4 separate regions of the Homo sapiens genome follow, and all the other regions are linked to region 3. The links come from fine-mapping of genetic effects on gene expression. A gene starts in region 3. Each other region holds a variant in brackets. All regions are shown on one strand. Distances are from middle to middle.

Region 1 (5,155 bases), 46 kb before region 3:
CAACTTCCCAGATTTTTTTCTTTGTGGGGGCAAATTGAGGAGGAAGGGAAAGTGGGGGGGCGGGGGGAGGAATACAGTGCCAGTCTGTGGGCTCCATTCTGAATTTAGATCTCCTGGGCAATTTCTAGAGGCTTCATTCTCCCCACTGTGTTCCCTTCTCAGGGAGGGGGCCCCAGCCCCACACCTCCACCTGCCTCCCACCCACCAGTCTTCTGCAGTGCACGTGAGCTGCCCCAGGGATCTGCCCCTTCCCTCACACAGTATCGGAGCGGTGAGGATTTTTAATCAAAAGGCAGCACACGCAGAGAACAGCACCGCCACCACCCCGCTCAGCATCACTGAGCCATTCTCCCCCACCCCCCCCCACACTGAGTCACTCTAGCTAACAGTTAATTAATTTGTGACACTTTGACAGTTTATGAGGAGACATTTTTACGGAGCCATCAAAATCTGCAGGGATGGGGCTGTCAGGCAGACACCCCTTCCTGCATTCACTGCATCTCCCAGACCCTGCCTCACCCCGCTGCAGACCCTGGAGGCCTGCAACAAGGTAAGGCTGGGAAGACTCAAATTCTGCTGCTGCTCAGGCCTCTCAGAGATGCCACACTCCCAGGGACACCTGAGCAGGCCCAGGGCCACCTGGCCACCTTGGGAAGAAGCAGAGAGCGGGGTTGTCTGGGATGAGAGCCCTGGAGAAGGGGAGGCCTGGTCATGCTCAGCTGTGGTCTCCTCTGCTCCTAGACAAAGTCTCACACAGGGGCCCTTTCGATAGCTGGGCAAGGAACTGTGCGTGCTCCAGCCTCCCCCTGGGGACACCCCCACCCCACCCTTGTGCTCCATAGAGAACTGAGTCTCAGCTGCACTCAGCTCACTCACTGTGGATGCTTGGTAGTCTCTGGCTGGTGCTGATGGGGGGGGATGGCTCCCTTGGCCTGCTGTGACTTCCCTCCCACAGGGTGCTGCCAACCTGGACACTCTGAAGCCCTGGGCCTTCCAGAAGCCCAGAAGCCATCTCTACCAGCTCTGTGCTTTTCTTTCCACAGACTGTGTGTTGGCTATGACCTCTCCCCACCTCCCCACATCCCCACACTCACTTTCATCTGTGTGCCTCTTCTTCTTTTTCCAATGCCTTATAACACCTTTGTGCCACAGTGATGCCCACCTGGGAAACACCCTGCAAGGACCCGAACCAGCTGGGCACCCAACCCCAGCTACCACTGTGACTGGGACCCAGAGGGTCAACAGGAGATCTCAGAAGAGGCTATTGTACCCTTCACGAAGGATCTGGGAGGAGAAATGACTGCAGGGTAGGAAAAGACCTAGGGACTGGCCCCTTCACCCTTGAATGAGATGCTATCTCCATGGACGTCTCTCAAACGTGTGGAGCATGTGCTATTGCCAAGGCTGTGCTGGGGAGGGAGAAGACCAGGAGAGACAAGACACATGTGAGCCTTGCACACAGTTTAGCAAGAAGAACAGACATCAAACAAATCTCTAGACAAATACTGACTTCATTACACCTGTGCTGGGTGTCACCGAGGAGCACACGTGTTGTGAAAGCATTAAGTGAGAAGACGGGCTCTGAGCTGGAGTGGCAGGAAGGCTTCCTTGGAGAAGGGGCTGGAAAGATAGTCCTGAAGGGTGAGAAGGAGGAGGAGGCCAGCCAGGGTGTGCTATGCTGAGCCCAAGTGGCAGGAAGGGGCTTAGGGTTAGGAGTTGGGACTCAAGGAGGGTGCATGTGGCTGCCTGTGCCTGTAAGTTTATGGATTTGGTGACAGGAAATTGAGAAAGTGCCGAAGGCTAGCTTCTATTTTTACTGTGAGGTGGGAGGTAAGACTGGGAACTGCTGGCCAGGTTTAATTCCAGGGAGCAGGGGGAGAAGCTTGGAGCAGGCGACCCGGGTTGCCAACCTCAAGCTGGGCCACAGAAGGCCCTCGAGATTGTAGCCACTCTCTGGCTCCAGCTGCATAGGGCCAGACACAGCCAGAGACCACCAGTGGAGAGATTCATCCAGGCTGTTCCACGCCTTCTAAAGAAACCTAGACAATGTTCCCTGCAGATAACATAGCCAAGAGCTGCTGCGCGGTCCCTGAGCTCTGCTGCCTCGCTGCCTCTGAAGAACTCCAGGTTCCAGGGAGGCTCCCCATGCCGGGGGAGAAGGGGCAAATGGGGTATTAGTGTGTGGCCTCCCCCTGTCTCCCACAGCAGCCTCTGCCACCCCCAAATGGTAGTCCAGGCCACTCCCTGGGCTTCCACTAACGGGTATCCCCCAGCCTAGGTCTCTAGTCCAGACCTGTTCCCCCACAGTAGTGCTGAGGCTGTGGTTTGTGGGGGAGTCCAGGGGCTCAAGAAGGAGGAGCCCTTCCCCTTAACAGGGAAAGAGCAATCTGCATTTCTTCCCTCAGGAGTGACTGCTGACACCGGGGCCAGACCCACAGCCTCACACCCCACTCCCCTGTGCACTCGGGCCTGGGATGCAGGAAAAACCGTTCCCAGTGAGCCCAGGAGGTTGCCATCGTCCATTGCTCCAGGTTCCTCTTTGTCCCCACAGTCCTTTCTGTTTCTCCTCCCCCTCCTTTTTTTCCTCGCCACAGACCCTCCACACCCCAGCTCCAGGGCTTAGAGGCTTTGCCCTCCAGACAGTGACTGTGCCTGTCCATCTACCCACTCCCACCCTCGGCAACCCAAGGTCTGCAGCCGCCTGGCCTAGGGCTTTGGGAATGAGGTCTCCATTTCCTCTGCCATCTGCTGAGGTTGCCTCCTCGGCCAGAGAACATAAAAGTGTTATTCAGTAACTCTCTCCTTTTCCCTTGGATGTGGGAAGGAACGGGCGCACCACCTTTCCTCCCTCTTCCATTTCCATGCTGCCTTTTTGAAGTTGCAAGAGATGCTAAAAGAAGGTCCAACCCCAAGTGAGAGCCTGGCCTTTGCCTGGAGGGGTAGGGGCAGGTGGCCTATATCGCCAGGGTCCTGGAAAG[GA/A]ACCTCTTACCCACTCACTCCCAATTCCTATCCAACTCAAGTCACTCCAGTAGGCTGCTTTTGAGATGCAAATACAAAATGCTTTCTTCTCCCCCTCTACTTTTTCATTGAAATGCTTTGCATCTCAGAAAAGAGGAAAAAATGATGTGTTTAAGACAGGAGTGTCTCACCCGCCATCAAGCCTGATAAGGAATTGTTAAATTTTAATTAGACAATTTGATTCCTTCAAGTGCCGAACTTTCAGGGAAGGCAGCACCAAGACTTAAGCTGAGACGGAAGCATAGGAAACACGTTGCTGGGGTTTATGCTGCATCCAGGGCTTCTGTCCCCCACCTTTCTAGCTCTGTGCCCCAGATGAAATAGAAATGAGGTGGTGGGGATAGAGGGAGGGAGAGAGAGAGAGAGAGAGAGAGAGAGAGAGAGAGAGAAAGAGAGGATCAGAGAAAATCCTCTCTGTTCTCCCAGGACCTGCCAGCTTTCTTCCTGGATCCCAGGCTGTCCTAACAGATTGACCCTTTTCACCCCACTCCATCAGCCTGGGGACTAAGTGTTGCTACACCTTCCAAGTTTCTCCTGAGAGAAAATGTCAGGTTTGGGTGTCAGCCTCAAACTGCTGAGCCTTAAAGGAGCTTTTTTCCCTTCCAATACACTTTATAGGTTGGGGCGCCTGCCAGTTTTGGGGCGTGACTGGGAAAGCAGCCCCTTCCATACCTCATCTATACCCCAGAAGGCCTGCCCACTCCCTGTCCCCTCCTCTACTCCTGGGGGGCAGTGCAGTGGGTGGCCTGAGCAGGGTGGCCTGCCTGGGGCAGCCTGGGTGGGCTAGCTTAGCCCCGGGTATCTGGGCTCTTCCAGTACTTCTCAACTTGAGAGCTAGCTAATTTCCAAATTAGGGCACGCACAGAAAATAGTAGCATTTGTAAGGCATATAGGGTGAATAGCAGAAGCTGCTGAGGTTGGAAGTGCCTGCCTCTACATCCCAACTGACCTAATATTTCTATGCACCTTGATGCATTCTAGACCTCTGATTGGGGAAGTTCCACTCTGAAGCTTCTGAAGAGAGCCACTATTATAGAAGGCTGGAGTTAGGCTAGATGTTAGGAAGAACTTGACAGGCAGGGGTCCTGAGCACTAGAATGGATGACTCTGAAAGATATTTCTGTAGATCTTTGCCCTTCTGAGCTAGGGCAGAGCAAAGAGTCCTGGAGACAGATGAGGAGATCTTTGGCTCTTTGATGACCAGTAGCTTGCAGGTCACCACACAAATGCAGTCTTCTCTTTCTCCTGGCTTCCACCAGGGCAGCTGAGAAAGAAAAGCCTAGGAGGCCTCAGAGGACCCATGGAACCTTGTCTGCAAGCATCTGCATGGTGAGGGTGGAATGAGGAGCAGCAATTACCCCCACTTTCCTGCACAGAAAGGTGCCTTAGGGGAGAGGCAGCCACCCCTGGAGTGAGGCCTGGCAGCTACAGGATTAGATTGTTCATCCTCCACCCAGGAAACACTGTCAAGTAGCTCAACCTGTAACAGCTGGAAAATAACAGTGTCCATGCATGTATTTGGTGCTCACTAAGTTCTTGTTGACTGGGGATTGTGATTTGGAGTTTTGTAAGCTTTTATGCATGCCCAGGGGCCACCTGGGAGAAAGATGGAGATGACATTTGGAGGGTGGTGAGCAAGTTGATCATATTTTCACAATCAAAAATCAAAATGCTTGTTTTGATAACAATAGATTTTTAAATATACTGTGCCACTTTATTTGTCTCAAAAAAATTTCTCATGTAAGAATAATGCACCTTGGGTTATATATTTAGCCAATCTCCATTTTAAAAAAAGAACAAGAAATTGGGACCATCATGGCAAATACAAGGTGCCATGTGTTATGTGGCTTTGCATTTTCCCTCAACAAGCTCCAGAGTGGACAAAGAACTCACCAGGCTTCTTTGGAGCCAGAACCAGCCCAGCGTAACTGGAGCAGCACTGAGAACCTTTCCTCACTCCGCTACCATGAACACAAGCTCCAGCCAGGATGGAGAAGCTACTCACTTGTGTATTCTTTTGGGATGCCCCTTGGAGCCCAACAATCTGTGCAGCCCGGAGACAGAAGGACAAAAGGGAGGGATGGGCTGGAGCTGCAGCAGGGAAGCCTGGGGACCAGCAGGTTTTCTCAGGCCCCTT
Region 2 (5,118 bases), 95 kb after region 3:
GCTAATTCTTTAGTTGGTAAGACTTCTCTGGCTATATCAGATATAACCAAAGGGGAGTAACATTAGAAGAACCTGGGTTAAGTGTATGCAGGAACTCCTCATACTATCTTTGCAACTCTTCTGTAAATCTAATATTTTTCCACATTAAAAGTTTAAAGAAAATCCCCTACAACTTCTTGTCCTAAACCACTCTCTCCTCCCAACTTCTAGTTCATGAATTCATTTGTTTATCCATTCAACAAATGTACTGAGCAACAACTTAGTGGCATGGGGATGGAGCAGGGGCATGAAGACAATGACAAGACAATGTGAAGACAGTGGCCTCAAGGAGCTTATGGTCTTTCCTGCAAATCTGCAAGACCTGCAGACAGTTATGATGCGATGGCATGAATGCTTCAGTGGAGAATTGTGCAGTGTGTGACACAAGCATAGGAGAAGGAAGAGAAGTAGGACTTTGCCAGGTGAGCAAGGCACTGTGGGCACAGTGACGAGCAGGTGTGCAGGCACACAGGTGAGAGAACACAGTGTCATCAGGAAACTATCAGTAATTCCATCTTATAGGAGTGAGTAATACAAGGGGAAGTTGCACTCAGTGAGGCACAGAGGGAGACAGGGGGGATATTCCAAGGATTGAGATTTTGTCCTGCAGGTGAAGGTAAACAACTGATGTGTTCTAAGCAAGTGAGTCACAGATTTGCACTACAGAAAGATAAGAAACCGGACAAGGTGGAGGCTCTCCGGCTACGGACAGAGGAATGACCCCAGGCTCTGTGCCTTGCCTTCTGCTTTGAGTCCTTCCTCTATTACGTCTCCCTGGACTGGTCCTCACTGCCTGAACACCCCCATCCTTTTTCTCTGCCTCCCTGCCTTAGAGCATCGATGTAGCCTTGGATTGTGCCATTCCTTGTTGAGACAGCTCCACAGACTATACATGTATGTCCTTTACTCACCTCTCACTTGCTGACTTCTTAGTGTTGTGGCTGGTGCTCAGCCACCAGGACTTTGCCTATGGGCAAGGAAGTGCATACAATTGCAAAGCACAGATGGGAGGCGTTGAGAGACCAAGTCAGCAGTTGCCGGGTTGGAGAGGAGGAGATGAATACAAGAGATGTTCAGTAGAGAAAATCAATAGAAAACATTGACAAATTGGAAATGGGGAGAGAGAAAGGAAGGATTCTGATGACAATGCCAGCTATTCAGCTTACAGAAGCGAATGGATGGCTCTGCCCTTCTCTGTGATAGGCAACAGAGGAAGGCGGGGGAGGGGAGGAGTTGGAGGAGGAGGGATGAAGAAAGGGATAATGAGAAGCTTTGGTGGGTTGAATTCATTGTGCTGGGGAAACAGTTGTCCATCCAGACTTTGGAAGAACCATTTAGGAAGAGGATAAAGATGTGAGGTTATCCACATATTTCTAGTATCCTGTGACAATAGGGTACATGTATGTATCCATACACATATGTGTCTCTTCCTCTTAAGCCAGTTTTCACTGAGAAAAATAAAGAGCTCTGAGCATAGAGTAAAATAAGTCTTGATTCAGGTTCTAGTTCTGCCATGTCCCATTTGTATCAAGGCTCTCCAGAGAAAACCAATGTGTCCACTGAGAAGTCCTGGGAGCAATGAGTACACTACACCAGCATCTCTTGAAACTTAGGTTTCCTGAAGAAATGGCTGCTTCCAGGACTGAAGAAGAGAAAGGACGAGATGAGAATGTAACATCCTGTTGTGTCAGGAAGTAATGAAGTGCTCAAAGAATGATTAGGTCATGTAAAAACCAGAAACCAGATGGAATGGGCTCCCACTGAGTGACCGGATCAGGGACAATCTGCACATCAAAATAAATAATGAAGCTAACAGAATTCACTGAAAACTAGACAATCACTAGTCTAGTCTAGTGGTTTTCTGATAGTGTTTATCTGATAGATAAACAATCAATTGAAAGTTTGATGGGGCACGGGATATTTACAAAGTTTTAAAGTCCCTCTACACATAGCATGCCCTCAATTAATGTTAATACTACCACAATGAACAAATGCTTTTTAACTACAAAGAGGGGAAAAGAGTGACTTCACAGCAAAAAAGCCTGGCAGACACCACCTTAATCAAGTGATCCAAGTGGGCATCGTCAGACACAGGAGGATGGAGATCACGTGCCACTTGGTAAGATGAAGCCAGAGTGAGAGGACCAGCTCCATGGCATTCCTGTGAAAGAGCAGCACCTGAATTTCGTTGTGAGAAAATGTTGGACAAGCTAAAATTGAGGGTCATTCTACAAAACCAATGGCCTGAACTCTTCGAAAATGTCAAGATCGTGACAAACAAAACAGAACTCATCTTCCAGATTGATGGAGACTAGAGAGGCATGAAACTAAAAAAAATGGTGTGTTCCTGGAGTGAATGTTGAACACACAAAGATTATTTTTCTTTTGTTTAAGGATCATCAGAGGAACAACTGGAGAAATTTGAATAAGGACTGCAGGTTAAAAAATAGTATTGTATCCATGTTAATTTTTTTTGAGACGGAGTCTGTCTGTGGCCCAGGCTGGAGTGCAGTGGTGGTGCGATCTTGCCTCACTGCAAGCTCCGCCTCCCGGGTTCACGCCATTCTCCTGCCTCAGCCTCCCGAGTAGCTGGGACT[A/G]CAGGCGCCTGCCACCATGCCTGGCTAATTTTTTTTGTATTTTTAGTAGAGACGGGGTTTCACCATGTTAGCCAGGATGGTCTCGATCTCCTGACCTCGTGATCTGACTGCCTCGGCCTCCCAAAGTGCTGGGATTACAGAGGTGAGCCACTGCACCTGGCCCCATGCTAATTTCTTGACATTGATTTTGATCTTGATTATGTAGGGGAGAGAAGGTCCTTGCTTATAAGAAATAGTACAATATTCACAGGTGCTGGAGCATCTGGCCAGAAATTTACTTTCAAGTGTTCAAGAAAAAGAAACATCTTTGCATTGCATTTGCATTTTTAATGTAAGTTTATGATTATGATTGGGAGTTGCTGAAGACATTTGTGTATGTGTGTGTGTGACCAGTTTTTCCCTAATCTACCACAATATTGTCCTTTTTTTCAACCTACCACAATGGCCAAAGAAGAACTCTTATTTCCAATCCTAGATAGGCTCCTTATCTCAATAAATGGCCTGAAACATTTGCTTTCTTGCTTAAGACAAAGCCTAGGAGACATCCTGACCCCCTTTTAAGCCACATCTTCCATCCAACCTACCAGCAAGTCCTGCCAAGCCTACTTCCAACACAGATCTTGAACTTGTTCTCTTTCCATGGCTGCTGCTTCCTCCCTCACATGAGCCACCCCATGTGCGTGTGAAGGGGAATTTCATAAACAGGTCCATAGGAGGCTATGATCTCTCTGTGTCCCGTGGCCACATGTCTGGCAGTAGACCTGAGGTTGAGCTTGGTCAGAAGGATGCTGACGGTCAGCTGAACTTGCGTGGAGGAGAGCAAAGGTGTGCAGGACTCATGAGCACCTCCACATTTCTCTGTCACTGCAGGAGACTATAAGTCCTTAAGAGCATGATGGACACCACGTCCTTCTGCCTTCAAATCACACATGAGTTCTTCCTTTGTCTAATTCTAACTGGAACCATACAAACAAGGGGGTCTAGGAAATGTGACTGCTAGCAAACATGTCGATGAGCGCATTCCCATTGCATCGGCCCCTGCCCATGCAACCTCAAGAAGCCATGTGACCTCACTCTATCCCATCATTCTGCTCAGGCCTCTGCAGAGCTGCTGCATTCTCAGTGGTTTACGGTGGCATTCTCCGCCAGGAAGTTAACTCGGGAGCATGGATCACATCCATTTTGGTGCCTACTGAATCTCTAGCACTAGAGCAGTGCCTTAGTCCATTCAGGCTAAAATCCACAGACTGGGTGGCTTATTAACAACGGAAATGTATTTCTTACAGTTGGGAAGGCTGGAAGTCCAAGATCAAGGCACTAGTAAATGGTGTCTGGTGAGGTCCCACTTCCTGGGTCATAGACCTTCTTCTCACTGTGTCCTCACATGGTGGAATGGGTGAGGGAGCTCTCTGGGGTCTCTTTCATCAGGGCATTAAACAAGGGATCCACCCTCATGATCTAGTCACCTCCCAAAATCCCTTAGGGGTTAGGATTGGGGGTTAGGAGTTCGACAAATGAACTGTAAATAACAACATTCAGTTTATAGCAAACAGGGAGTGGCACATGGTAATGAATAAATGCCCCCCCCCCCACTCACCTTGACATATGATTCTCTATTTTTGGATCTGCTACTTACAACAGCTTACTTCCACATGCTAATTTTTTAAATTACATAGCAATTATTAGTACTTTTTTATTTTAAGTTAAAAAAAAATCCCACACAAATTGACTTCAGTAAAGGGAATATATTGGTTCAGGGAATTGAAAAACCCAGGCATTTTTCAGGCACGTCTGGTCCATGGGACTCCAATGCCTCTGAGATCTGTTCTGCTTCCTGTGTGTTGGTTTCAATCTCAGGCAGGCTTTCCCTTGGGGTGGCACCTGGAAGCTCAAGACTTCTCTTCCTATGAGTTCCAACAGAGCTTCTTTCTTGCTAGTCATTTCCACAAAGTCCTAGGAGTGGAAGGAACATTCCCAGAGAAAAATCGAAGTACTGTTAAGAGAAGGAAGGAAAATGGATGTCCGCTGGATAAATGCATTTGTTTGCTACAGATTTGTTGTAAGGATTAAGAGATGATATTTTAAAGTTTCTGGCATGTAGCAAGCCCTCAATTAATGCAAGTTGCTGCAACAATACTTAATATTATCATGTAATTATTCTTACTGTATGAATCATTTTATAAGCTGTAGGATAGCAAATCAATGCTAGATTTCATTATCTCCTTTGGAGTTCAGCAGATGTGGACAGCTCAATTCAGGAGCAGAGGGGAGGAGAAGCCTCCATTTTCAGGCCCAAGGGGCAGGCAGCAGCTTTCCATTTGGGTGGCCAGGTTGGGGGAAAAGCCTGGTTTCCTGTGGTTCTTGGCACGGCCACTTGGTGGCAGTCTTAGCCCACTGTGCCCTTCCCAGCCAGGCCCAGCTGCTCATCTGGGTTTCCCCTGAGAGCCTCAGGGACTCTACCCCTCTGCATACCACAGCTCTG
Region 3 (5,155 bases):
CCTGGTTGTAAATGCTCAGTGGTTTTCCACTGCTCTTTTACTCTCCCAACTCCAGCCATCATGGCCTTTTCCCATCTTTGTACTTACCATGCCCCTCTTGCCACAGATTCTTTGCACACTCTGTTGTCTGTTCTTGGAAAACTTTCTCCTCCTCACCTACTTAACTTATACTCATTCTTCACATTTCAGCTGTAGTGTAACTTCTTCAAGGAAGCCTTTTCTGATATCAGTCAAACTTTCTGTTAATGAGCTCTCCTAGAGCCACAAATCTCCCCTTCTTAAGCTTCTCACAGTAGCACATTTACATTTACATGTGGGGTTATCTGGTTAATGTCTTCCTCCCCCTAGGCTGCAATCTCCCGGAGAGAAAGGACACATCTGTTGCATTCATCGTTAATCCCAGGGTGTAGAACAGTGCCTGACACATAGTAGAAGAGCAGTAAGCATTTGTCAAGTGGATGAATGAATGAATAGCTGGAAAGAGGATCTAGTAAAGTAATGCACGTAAAGCTCCTAGTATAGTAATCCATACATACTAAGTCTTAATTACCATTAATTATCTTACCCCCTCCACCCAGGGAATTCCCAGAACTTGGGAAGGGAAAGTGGCAGGAGTTAGCATCAATGTCTCACAGTGTAATCATGTCACTGCCATCTGTTTCCTTTCGTTCTATATTCAAAAGGCTATAAATGATTTAGACAAATCCTAGCATACTCTGACCCTCCTCCAAAACCAACAGGCAGATGTTGAGGGAGGAAGGTGAGTGGGCCTTAGGCGATCTTATTTTTCCTCTCCTCATAAGGTGGGGGAAGGCCTGGGAACTGAGTGTGTGGCACCTGAGGCTGTATCTTAAGAGTTTGCATGGTAATCCTAGAGAACCACAGATAGCATCCAAGCCAGATGCCAGTCAGAGAGACCCCCGTCCCGGACTCTCTAATTGATGTCCCAGAGCCTTGGGAGGAGGACATGGTTATCATGCTCAGGTTTAACATCCCGAGTGTCTTCTTCATGGCTGCAAGGTGCAAGCACACAGCTAGTATATGCAACTCCAGTGGGAATGAGACTGGATTCCAAATCAGTGGGAAGACAGAGAATAATGGAAACGTAGGAAAGAGGTAGGAAGAGAAAAATAGGGGCATGTCAAGGCGTCGCTGTAGTGCGCATGACAGCAAGGGACAAAAACAAAAACAGAGATGAGAGAACTCCAGACTTGACCCTCCAAGGGCCTGGACAGGCCATCAGGCCGGGCAGTCTCCATCCCCTGACCTCCTCAGCCTGCACTGATTGGGAGGGGCCTCCTCCCTCCCGCCACCGTGGGAAGAGAGAACATGATTCCCTGCAGATCTGAGCAAAGTGCCACAGCCTCCCAGGATGCTCAGCCCTGCCCTGAGAGCTGGGGTGGGTAGGAGGATGGCAGAGAGCGGTCAAGAGCAGTTATTGCCACAGGACACCGGGGGAAGAAGGCGCTGGAGAGAAGGATGGAAGCAGGCAGGACAAGTTCGGAAGGTCAGATGGGATAAAGGCGTCTTTGGTAGGTAGTTCCCGCTTGCCTTTGACCTCTGTTGAGTCTACAAACAGGTATTATGTGCCAACTCTATTTTGGTTAGGGAGACAGGTATGGGTGTGCCTGGGAGGCTCAGGCTACTGGGTGGAATTCAGAAATACCGCGGGGGACAGTCCTCAGCCCCAAACTCAGCCCACTCCTTCCTCGCAAGCTCCCTGGGCCCAAAGCTTGCCGGGCCTCAGTTTCTCCTCCGAGAAAGGGGAGGGCGAGGCTGGCAGTACCTGGCGGCGTCGGGTGGAAGGCAGGGGGCGCACTTGATGGCGTACTCCGTCCGCCAGCGCCTGTGCCGCGCCTGGAACACCTGGCTGAAGCCGCCGCTGGCCACTAGGCGCCAGTCGCCCTCGAAGTCGTCGCGGGTGAAGACGGGGAGGCTGCCCAGCCGCAGCTCGGTGGGGTCGGCAGCCATTGCCCCTCTCTTCCTGTCCCCGCGCCGCGCACTCCCCGCTGTGGCTGCTGCCTGGGTGGCCGAAGGAGCCGCCGCTTCCTGCTCCTCGGGTCCGGGAGAGGGGAATGGGGAGACGAGCCGGCCCTGCCTCCTTCCCCGCCCAAGAGGAGCCGCTCCTGCCCCGCAAAGGTGGGGAAATCCCAGACATGAGCCCTGAGGCCCCAGCAGGGATGGAGCGACCTGGGCCTGGGGAAGAGGGTATGTCCCTCCGAAGCCCTCGCATTTCCCCTGTCTCAGCCTTTGATTTTCCCCAGTTCCCCCTAGGGAGGGATGCTGGGAGAAGGTGTCCCGAAGCTGGAAGAAGTCCAGCCTGAGAAGTTGGATCCAGTTTATTTAGGCCCAGCGCTAAGTGAAATCGGTTTATGCATTCCTTCAGTGCATTCAAGGTTTTATGGTTTATGAAGGATTCAGGCCTGGACCCCTGCCCCTATCCAGCAAGTATGGGGCTCAAACAATTTTAATGGGGATTTTCTGGTCTGAATCTGTTGGTCTGACTGGTTTCATGTTTCCTTTGTTCTTGTTGGGGTTTTGTTTGTTTGTTTGTTAGCCAGCCTTGGTGTGCTATAGGTTACCAAGGAGGGGTCAGCAGGGACAGAGTTGCGGGGGAGGCTGGGCTCCTGTCTGCAGGGGACTCCCTTCCTGGGCTGCGCTCTATCCAACCTCAGAGGGATGGACCCCAGCCTCGGGGTGGCCACGGGGGAGGTGGCCTCCTTGGCGCAGTTACTAGGGGCAGTTTGTTGCCAGGGATGAGAGGAGGCTCTAGCTGGAGCCTGACCAGTGCTGAGCTTGGAGGTTCCCCTGGGTCCTGGGTCCATGGGATTGCCCTCTCACCTTGGAGACCCTCAGAGCAGGGAAAATGACAAGTGCTTGAACAGACAGGTCTCCCCAGGGGCACTGACCAAGTGGGCCATTGCCCAGAGACAGGCATACCTGGAGGAACTGTGGCCACGGAGTGCAGAGTCAGCCACTATTTGCCTACAGCTGAGTAAGTCCACAAGGAGCCCTCAGAGTGATCACTGTTAGGTTTGAGGAGCCTACCTACCAGACAAGGAAGTGCCTTGCCTTCAGCCCAAACCTGCAGAGCCCCTCGTCCATGCCACAAGCCCACCAGACTCCCAGGGAACAGTGTAGGCATGATAGGCAAACAGAGACTCCCTGTGGAAGCTGGAGAACTTGCTCCCTCTGTAACAACTTACCTGCAACTTCCAGGATGAATTCTGGCAAGCAGATTAAGGATCAAAGATTGGGCCTGGAGACAGTTGTCATAGAAACTAGTGATAGCCACTACTAATTGAACACTCACTTTGTTCCAGGATCAGTGACTATTTCAGTTACTGCATTGCTTTACATATATTATCCTGTTTATCTTGCAACAATGTTATGAGGTCAACATCTTCTATTCACAGATGAGGAAACTGGCTTCAAGACAATAAGTAATCAATGGACACATAGCTAGTAAGTGGTAGTTGATATTCAAACTCAAGTCTCTTAGTTTCTATGGAAATGGTTGGCCAGGGGAGGATCAGGGAGTAGCCTTTTATGAATACAAAAAAGGAAGAGAGAGAGTCATGCTCCCTGGAAGAGGGTGGAGATGATGGAAACTGCATCAGGAGCAGGACGTATCCCCCAAACATATGTCAGAGGGAGGCCCCCAGCTTGCTTTGGCTGGAGCAAGACAGGGCATAACAGAACCCATTGTCTCTGGAGTAGCCCTGCCTGCCCAAGTTTAAAGCCTCTGCCAGAGAAGTTTGGAAGGTGATAAAGGACATTGTCATCAGGGAGACCAGGAGGTCAAGAGGATGTTTCATACCTTCTACTGGGAGGGTGAACATGGAGACTGGGAAGGTGACCAGCCACCCAGCTCTGCGGAAGTTTGACTGAGGCCCGATCTTTGACATTCAGCGAGACCTATCTCAGCTCCTGGAGGAAATACCAAGGGTGAATGGCCTGAGTCATTTCAGCAGTTCCCCTTGATCCACTTATACCTGAAGTGGCTCTCCAGGGAGAGGAAGTAACCAGAAGCTGCCATTGTCTGCCTGCAGAGACTGTCACAGGAATACTGAAGAAAGCATCATTCCTAGAAGAGGGGACACCCAGGGCTCAAGGCATGTTGCCAGAATCCCGAACAAAATACCTCTGAATTTCTCACAGGGGTGGAGGTGGAGGAACTGCAGGGTCAGGGCGTATTACTGCTGACCCACCTGTTGAAACTCTCTGCTGTGGGTTCAAGCACCCCTGAGGCTTCTGAGGAGTCAGTCAAAATAGATACATTCATTGACCCAGAGGGACTGGATCATTTGACTGGGCTTGTCCTGCTCCTTACAGCTGTCTAACATGGGCTAGGGCAAAGGCCTAGTAGTCTTTGGATAAGCTCTGGGAGAAGTTGTAAGTGGAGGGACCCTTTCTGAGTATAAGGTCACAGAGGCAAAGAACTCCTGGATCTCTCATTAAAAGTGGGGTGAGGTATAGGGATTTGCAAAAGAGTAAAGTCAACTCAGAGGCTGCTGGTTTCTTTCCAGTGGTCTGAGTGCAGAAGTCCCTAGGTCCTGGCTGGTTGGGAAGTCAGCAGCCAGTGTGTGGAGGGGAGAGAGCTGGGGGGTTGGGAGGGAAACTCTACCTTTACCCATATCTACCTACAAATGGGAATGGATAATGAAGTGGTTATAGTCCAATTATGACCCCCACCCACCAGAAGGGGCAAGGAACAGGTTCTAGCTATAGAAGTTTTACCCCAAAATGCTCTGAGTCCTTCCAACTAACCTCTATCAGTGCATTTTGTTTGGGCAGATTGAAGATGGAAGTGTTCTGGATTTGGAGTTATTAAATGAATTTTGTGTGTATGTGTGATTGTCTTTGGGGAACCTAAGATTTTTAGCCTGCTCCTCCCAGACAAGTGAGCTGGTACAGGAGCTCTGCAATACTTTAGAAGATGCTGAAATCTGATGTGAGCCTTTCCCCAAACCGGAATGACAAGCTATTTGCATATAGGGAAGTTTCCCAGTCTGCCCCTGTTCTCCACCCTGCAAACATGTCACGGAGAACCCTGGACAGGTTCTGGCAGGCCCCAGCCTCTGGTAGCTTGTGTACTGAGGTTGGTCAGGATAAAGGAATGTATGCAGGAAAGTGGAACATCTGTTCAGGAAGC
Region 4 (5,149 bases), 65 kb after region 3:
TCCGCCAAGACTTTGTTTTCCCTTCTTCTCTTGGCTCGTTCCTTTGCATCCTTCTCCACAGATGCCAAGAAGGCCTCTGACAGCAGGGTAATTTCAGATATTAAAAAGAAAAATCCAAATACTATAATCAGTTCTTTAGCTCAAATTCGAAGTGTTACTTTAGAGCCACACGTATGCATATGCACACAGGCACACACACGCACACACACCATTCTGAGGCAACTAAAATGACATTTTCTTCATTTGACATTAAATGGTAATCTGTGTGATGCATTATTACACATGATGGCTATGACTGTGCTTCAAATTTGAATTATGTCTTTTAAAAGAGTTTTTCTTTGAAGAGAGATTTTTTTGTTCCGTTTAGCATAATGAGCTTCTGAGCTGAGCAACAGAGAAACTATCTGGATCCCTTGAACAGGGTAAATTGGATGATACAGAATAACTGAATTGAGTTTACAAAAGGTTGACCAAGAGAAAATAAAGAAAAACCTCTCAGGGACATTCCCGCTGATCACTAGTAACAGAATGGGATGATCAGTAGGTTTTTGTTCACAGGTTGTTTGTAAGCTCAAAGGCAATAATTTAAGGGTCTGGGAGCTACAATCAATCAAAACTGGTCCTATATAAAGAATGAAAATTGGGAAGAGAGATGCTGTCCTTACCTGAGTTTATTTCTTCTGCACTCTGTAGACGTAGGTTACCATAAAAACAAAGAAACAAATTTCAAAAACCACTCTAATTTATATGTATATAAACCAAGAAGGCAAATCAATTACAAACAAGAGGTCATTTCTTTTAACCATCAAAACTGAAGGGCTCAGAATTCATGGGGCTTGCTTTAAATCAGGAGATCTGAGTATGGGCACAATTGCTATGGGACCGAGTCTGCAAAACAAGGCTGCCCAGGTCAAGGGACCTCAGCTGTGGCTTATGAGTTGGAAATGAGTTAGAATACATTACCTTAAAGGTACAGCTTAAATATATCACACAAGCTCAGGGGGTGGAGAGGGGAAATTTCCATTAAAATAGATCCAAAGGGTTGTTTAAAGATAACCCAGAAAGATCAAAGGAAAAAAAAAATCAAATTTTATACTTTCTTATAAAAAATAAATCTAAGAAACAAAAGACCATTTCAGCCTTGCTGGACAGTTTGAGATTAAACTACTGCCTAGGTGTAGGTCTTCTCACTGTAAGTACTTATATAACTTCTCAATAGAAAAAGAAACCTTCATAGCAGTTTGTGGAGGACTGATCATAGTCTTGTTCAAGGTGGTCCTGCATTCATCCTCCTCCTGGTCTTCCTCCATAAGCAGTAGTCTCTTTTCTGTCTCCAGGACAGCTTTCTGTTGCACAACTGGGTCATCAGAATTCATCTCCTGAATTAAATTGGCTAGAGAAGAAATCAGGTGTGACTTAATCAAACAAGATATTCAAAAGACTCTATTCACTAGAAAGGATGGTGCATAAAATGCATGGGAAAGATCTTAAAGAAAAAAATAGAGCAATAGAAAGCAAAATAGAGCAAGCAGAACCAATGAGAAAAAATTAACAACAGGTTTTTTTTTTTTTTTTTTTGCCTAGAAAAAGTTGCAGGTGAGTATAGCTATTAGCTTTAAGGAACAGAGTTTTAAGCCATTATTCAATTCAACAATAATTTATGGAGAGCTCATTATGAGTTAGATATTATGCTGATGCTATAGATAACAATGATGAATAAAAAAAGATCCTTTTTTGAAGAGTTTATGAACTTGTGTGGGAGACAAACATGTAAGTACAGGCAGCTCAAAATCGCAAAACAGCAGCCCTTAACCCTATCCTCACCTGTCTTCACTTTACTGCTTATCCAGCTTAGATTCCATGGTCAATCACTCAGCAGCCATCCTGCCCATATACTCAACTCCCTTGCCCTGCTATCTCACCTAACAGACAAAATTCCAGCTCTACATAATTCCAATTACCCAATTCTACCAGTCTGCATTAGGAATGCTATGTACTGAGGGAGACAGATAGATGCCTGGGGGACTGGTCCAAACTCAAACTCAACTGGACCTTCAGTGATGCCCAGCAATCCTTGTTATCCTGGGCAAGATATCCTGTCACTCCCCCAATGACTTTTAACAGTTTGCAATCTAAACCTGACCATCTCAAAAAGATGCCCTTATTTATCAATTCAGAGAGGAAAGAGATGCCATCGACTTCCTGCTATTAAAACTACAAAACTGCCTATACCTACATCCATCCTTCCTTACTACCAGGAAAAGGTGCCCATTCTTCTGTAAGGTTAGTCCCTCATCCTGGGCCCAGGATTCCATTGTCATATTTTGCATAATCAGGAACGCTGCATCACCAATTAATAATCCTATTGCGCAATATTTTCAACCTATTCCATTCGACCAGCTTCCTTCTAAATTATGTACTTTAAATCTCTCCTAATGCTCTGTCTCCTCCCCTTCACAATTAAACTTCTTAATTCATTTTCCTGTTCTAATTTCTTCATTTCCCACTGAGTCTTCAAGGAAATTATAAATTTTTAATTGTACAATATTTCAAGCATACCGAAAGTAATATAATATTTTTGTTTCTATGCCATTTATAAGTTGAT[G/A]GTATCTTTTCTCCAGCATGCTTTAATACTTAGTATTTGTATCATTTAGATTTTGCTGCATCACACACCACATCAAAACTTAGTGGTTTGAAACAAACCACCATTTTTGTGGCTTAGTTTACAATTATCTATGTCAACAATTTGAGCTGAATTCAGCTGGCCAGTTCTGGTTTCAGCTGGACTCACACATATATCCATGGTCAACTGTCAGTCATCTAAGTGGCTCTGCTTTAGAAAGTCTGCTGGCTGTTGGCTTGAGAAATGCAAGCAACCCGGGTAAGTGTGTCTTACTTTCTCATGAGTGGTATGAGTGCAAGCCCTAATTCAAATGCACTTTTCAAGCCTCTGCTTGTGTCATGTTTGCAAACATCCTTTTGGCCAAAGCAACACACATGGCCAACCCAGATTCAAGTGGCAGAGAAATAGGCTCCACTCTTGATGGGAAGAAAGGAATTTGTAACCATTCTTGCAATCTACCAGAATATTTGTGTATGTAATATTTAAACAATTTTTTAAAATAGTTGTATAAAATGTGCATTCATTTGCAACCTACTTTTTTCTCTTAAGATGCTTTAGAGATGTGTTCTTGATACACATGGTTCCAGTTGATTCATTTAAACCATTATATATACCATAGTTAATCCATTCTCTTATTGATAGCCAGGTGGTTTTTCAGTTTTTTCTAAAGTAAATAAATGCTGAATTGAATACCTGTATGTACATATTTCCTTGTGCACATGTTACATATCCTTCAGGATATGGCTGTACCAATTTTTACTCCTACAAAAGAGTACAAGAGGAAGTTCCCATTCTTCTACATTCTTATCATCACTTGCTGGGTTAAACTTTTTAATTGTTGTCAATGTAATGGATGGGAATGGTATCTCATTGTTTTAATTTGCATTTCGCTGAATTTGATTGGAATTGAGCATCTTCTTATTGATTTGCACCCATTTGGATTTCTACGAAGAGCCTACTCCTATCCTTGGCCAATTTTCTATTGGGTCATTGTCTCTTTCTTATTAGTTAATATAATTTCTTTTTTAAAAAATTCTTTTTTTTTTAAGAGATGGTCTTGCTATGTTGTCCAGGCTCGATTTGAACCCCTGGGCTCAAGCGATCCTCCTGCTTCAGCCTCCTGAGTAGCAAAGACTACAGGCACACACCACCATGCCTGGTTGATTTGATTGTGAAACAGGGGAGTTCTCTGATCCCCCTCGCAGGACATGCGACAGGGGTGTGGCTTGCCTGTTTAGTCACCACCACTGCTCAAACCCCTGAGGGGAGGGGGAGAACGCAGACGGACAAGTGCAGGAGCCCAGTTGGGCACGTGTTACAGCGTGTCCTTTTAGCCCTGCCATCTGCGGACGACTTGATTGTTAACCAGCTTGACGGACATCTGCCTTTTCACAAGGGCAGAGGGAAGTGACAGCTTTTTGTATCCCGAGCTCTTGCCCAGCATCCCCGGAAGAATCAGGTCACACACAGGACTAAAGGATGAATGTGGGGTTTTACTGAGTGGTGGAGGTGGCTTTCAGTGGGATGGATGGGGAGCTGGAAGGGGGAATGGAGGGGAAAGATGATCTTCCCCTGGAGCCTGGCCATCCAGTGGCCCAACTCCCCTCTGGCTGCTCCCAGCCAAACTCCTCTCGGCGTTCAGACATTCCTCCTCTTTTCTCTACTGTGTCGTTCTGCCATTTGTCTGCTTGTGTCCTCATCTCACCTGCTCGTCTGCTTCTGGAGCCTGGGGTTCAGAGTTTACATGGGCACAGGATAGGGGAGCATGGCAGGCCAAAAGGCAACTTTTTGGGCACGAAAACAGAAATGCCTGTTTCCACTTAGCGCTGCAGATCTCCCGGCTTGAGGGTGGGGTCTTTGCCAGGGAACCACCCTCTTCTATCCACTATTCCCATCTCCTACCCGTATCAGTTGTATATATTCTGGACTGGTTACATGTATTTCCAAACATCTTCCCCTTGGGTATTCTTTGTCTTTTCATTTGTTTTTATGGAATATGTTGTTGAAGAGATTTTCTTTTTAATTTTAGTGTGTTAAATATACCATCTTTTCCTTTACAATTTAGGTCTTTTGTGTCAGTAAGGTTATAAATATACTCTCTTATGGTGTCTTATAAAAGTTTTAAAGTTTTTTTCTTACTAAGGTATGTAATTCACCTAGAGTTGACTTTCACGTAGGGCAGGAGCATTATTTGTTGAGAAGTCCCTGCCAGCAATGTGTCTCATCATCCCTGTTATGTGTGCAAATCTTCTCCAGGCTCTTCATTCCTTTCCCCTGATTGTCCTTTCCAGCACGAAAACCTCCATGCATTGATTACTATGGCTTTATAATAAATCTTGAATGTCAGGTAGGGAAAGTTGTCCTGCTTTTTTTTTTTTTCCTGCAGAGTTTTCTTGGCTCTTCTTGGTCCTTTGCTCTTCCACGTAAACTTTGGAATCAGCTTGCTGAATTTTAGTACATACTACTTTGCGGGTTTTGATCTAAATTGTATTTACTGCATAGAATATTTTAAAAATTGACATTTTT

What was found.
Region 1: its variant is fine-mapped to the expression of ANKK1 in tibial artery (GTEx, PIP 0.94).
Region 2: its variant is fine-mapped to the expression of ANKK1 in prefrontal cortex (BrainSeq, PIP 0.95).
Region 4: its variant is fine-mapped to the expression of ANKK1 in whole blood (TOPMed, PIP above 0.99).

The regions. Positions count from the first base shown.
Region 1 is chr11:113,430,541-113,435,695 of GRCh38, reverse strand. The region is part of intron 1 of DRD2 (dopamine receptor D2); the gene reads left to right. Among named protein-coding and RNA genes, the nearest start is that of MIR4301, 17 kb to the left of the region's middle. The variant GA/A (reference allele first, on the strand shown) is at 2,979.
Region 2 is chr11:113,289,667-113,294,784 of GRCh38, reverse strand. The region is part of intron 1 of TTC12-DT (TTC12 divergent transcript); the gene reads left to right. Among named protein-coding and RNA genes, the nearest start is that of NCAM1-AS1, 18 kb to the right of the region's middle. The variant A/G (reference allele first, on the strand shown) is at 2,637.
Region 3 is chr11:113,384,701-113,389,855 of GRCh38, reverse strand. ANKK1 (ankyrin repeat and kinase domain containing 1) reads right to left here and starts at 2,077. Exons shown (of 8, transcript NM_178510.2): 1 at 1,787-2,077. The coding sequence starts at 1,971.
Region 4 is chr11:113,319,532-113,324,680 of GRCh38, reverse strand. It overlaps TTC12 (tetratricopeptide repeat domain 12), which reads right to left. Exons shown (of 22, transcript NM_017868.4): 3 at 1,230-1,393; 4 at 666-687; 5 at 1-76. Among named protein-coding and RNA genes, the nearest start is that of TTC12, 7.5 kb to the right of the region's middle. The variant G/A (reference allele first, on the strand shown) is at 2,606.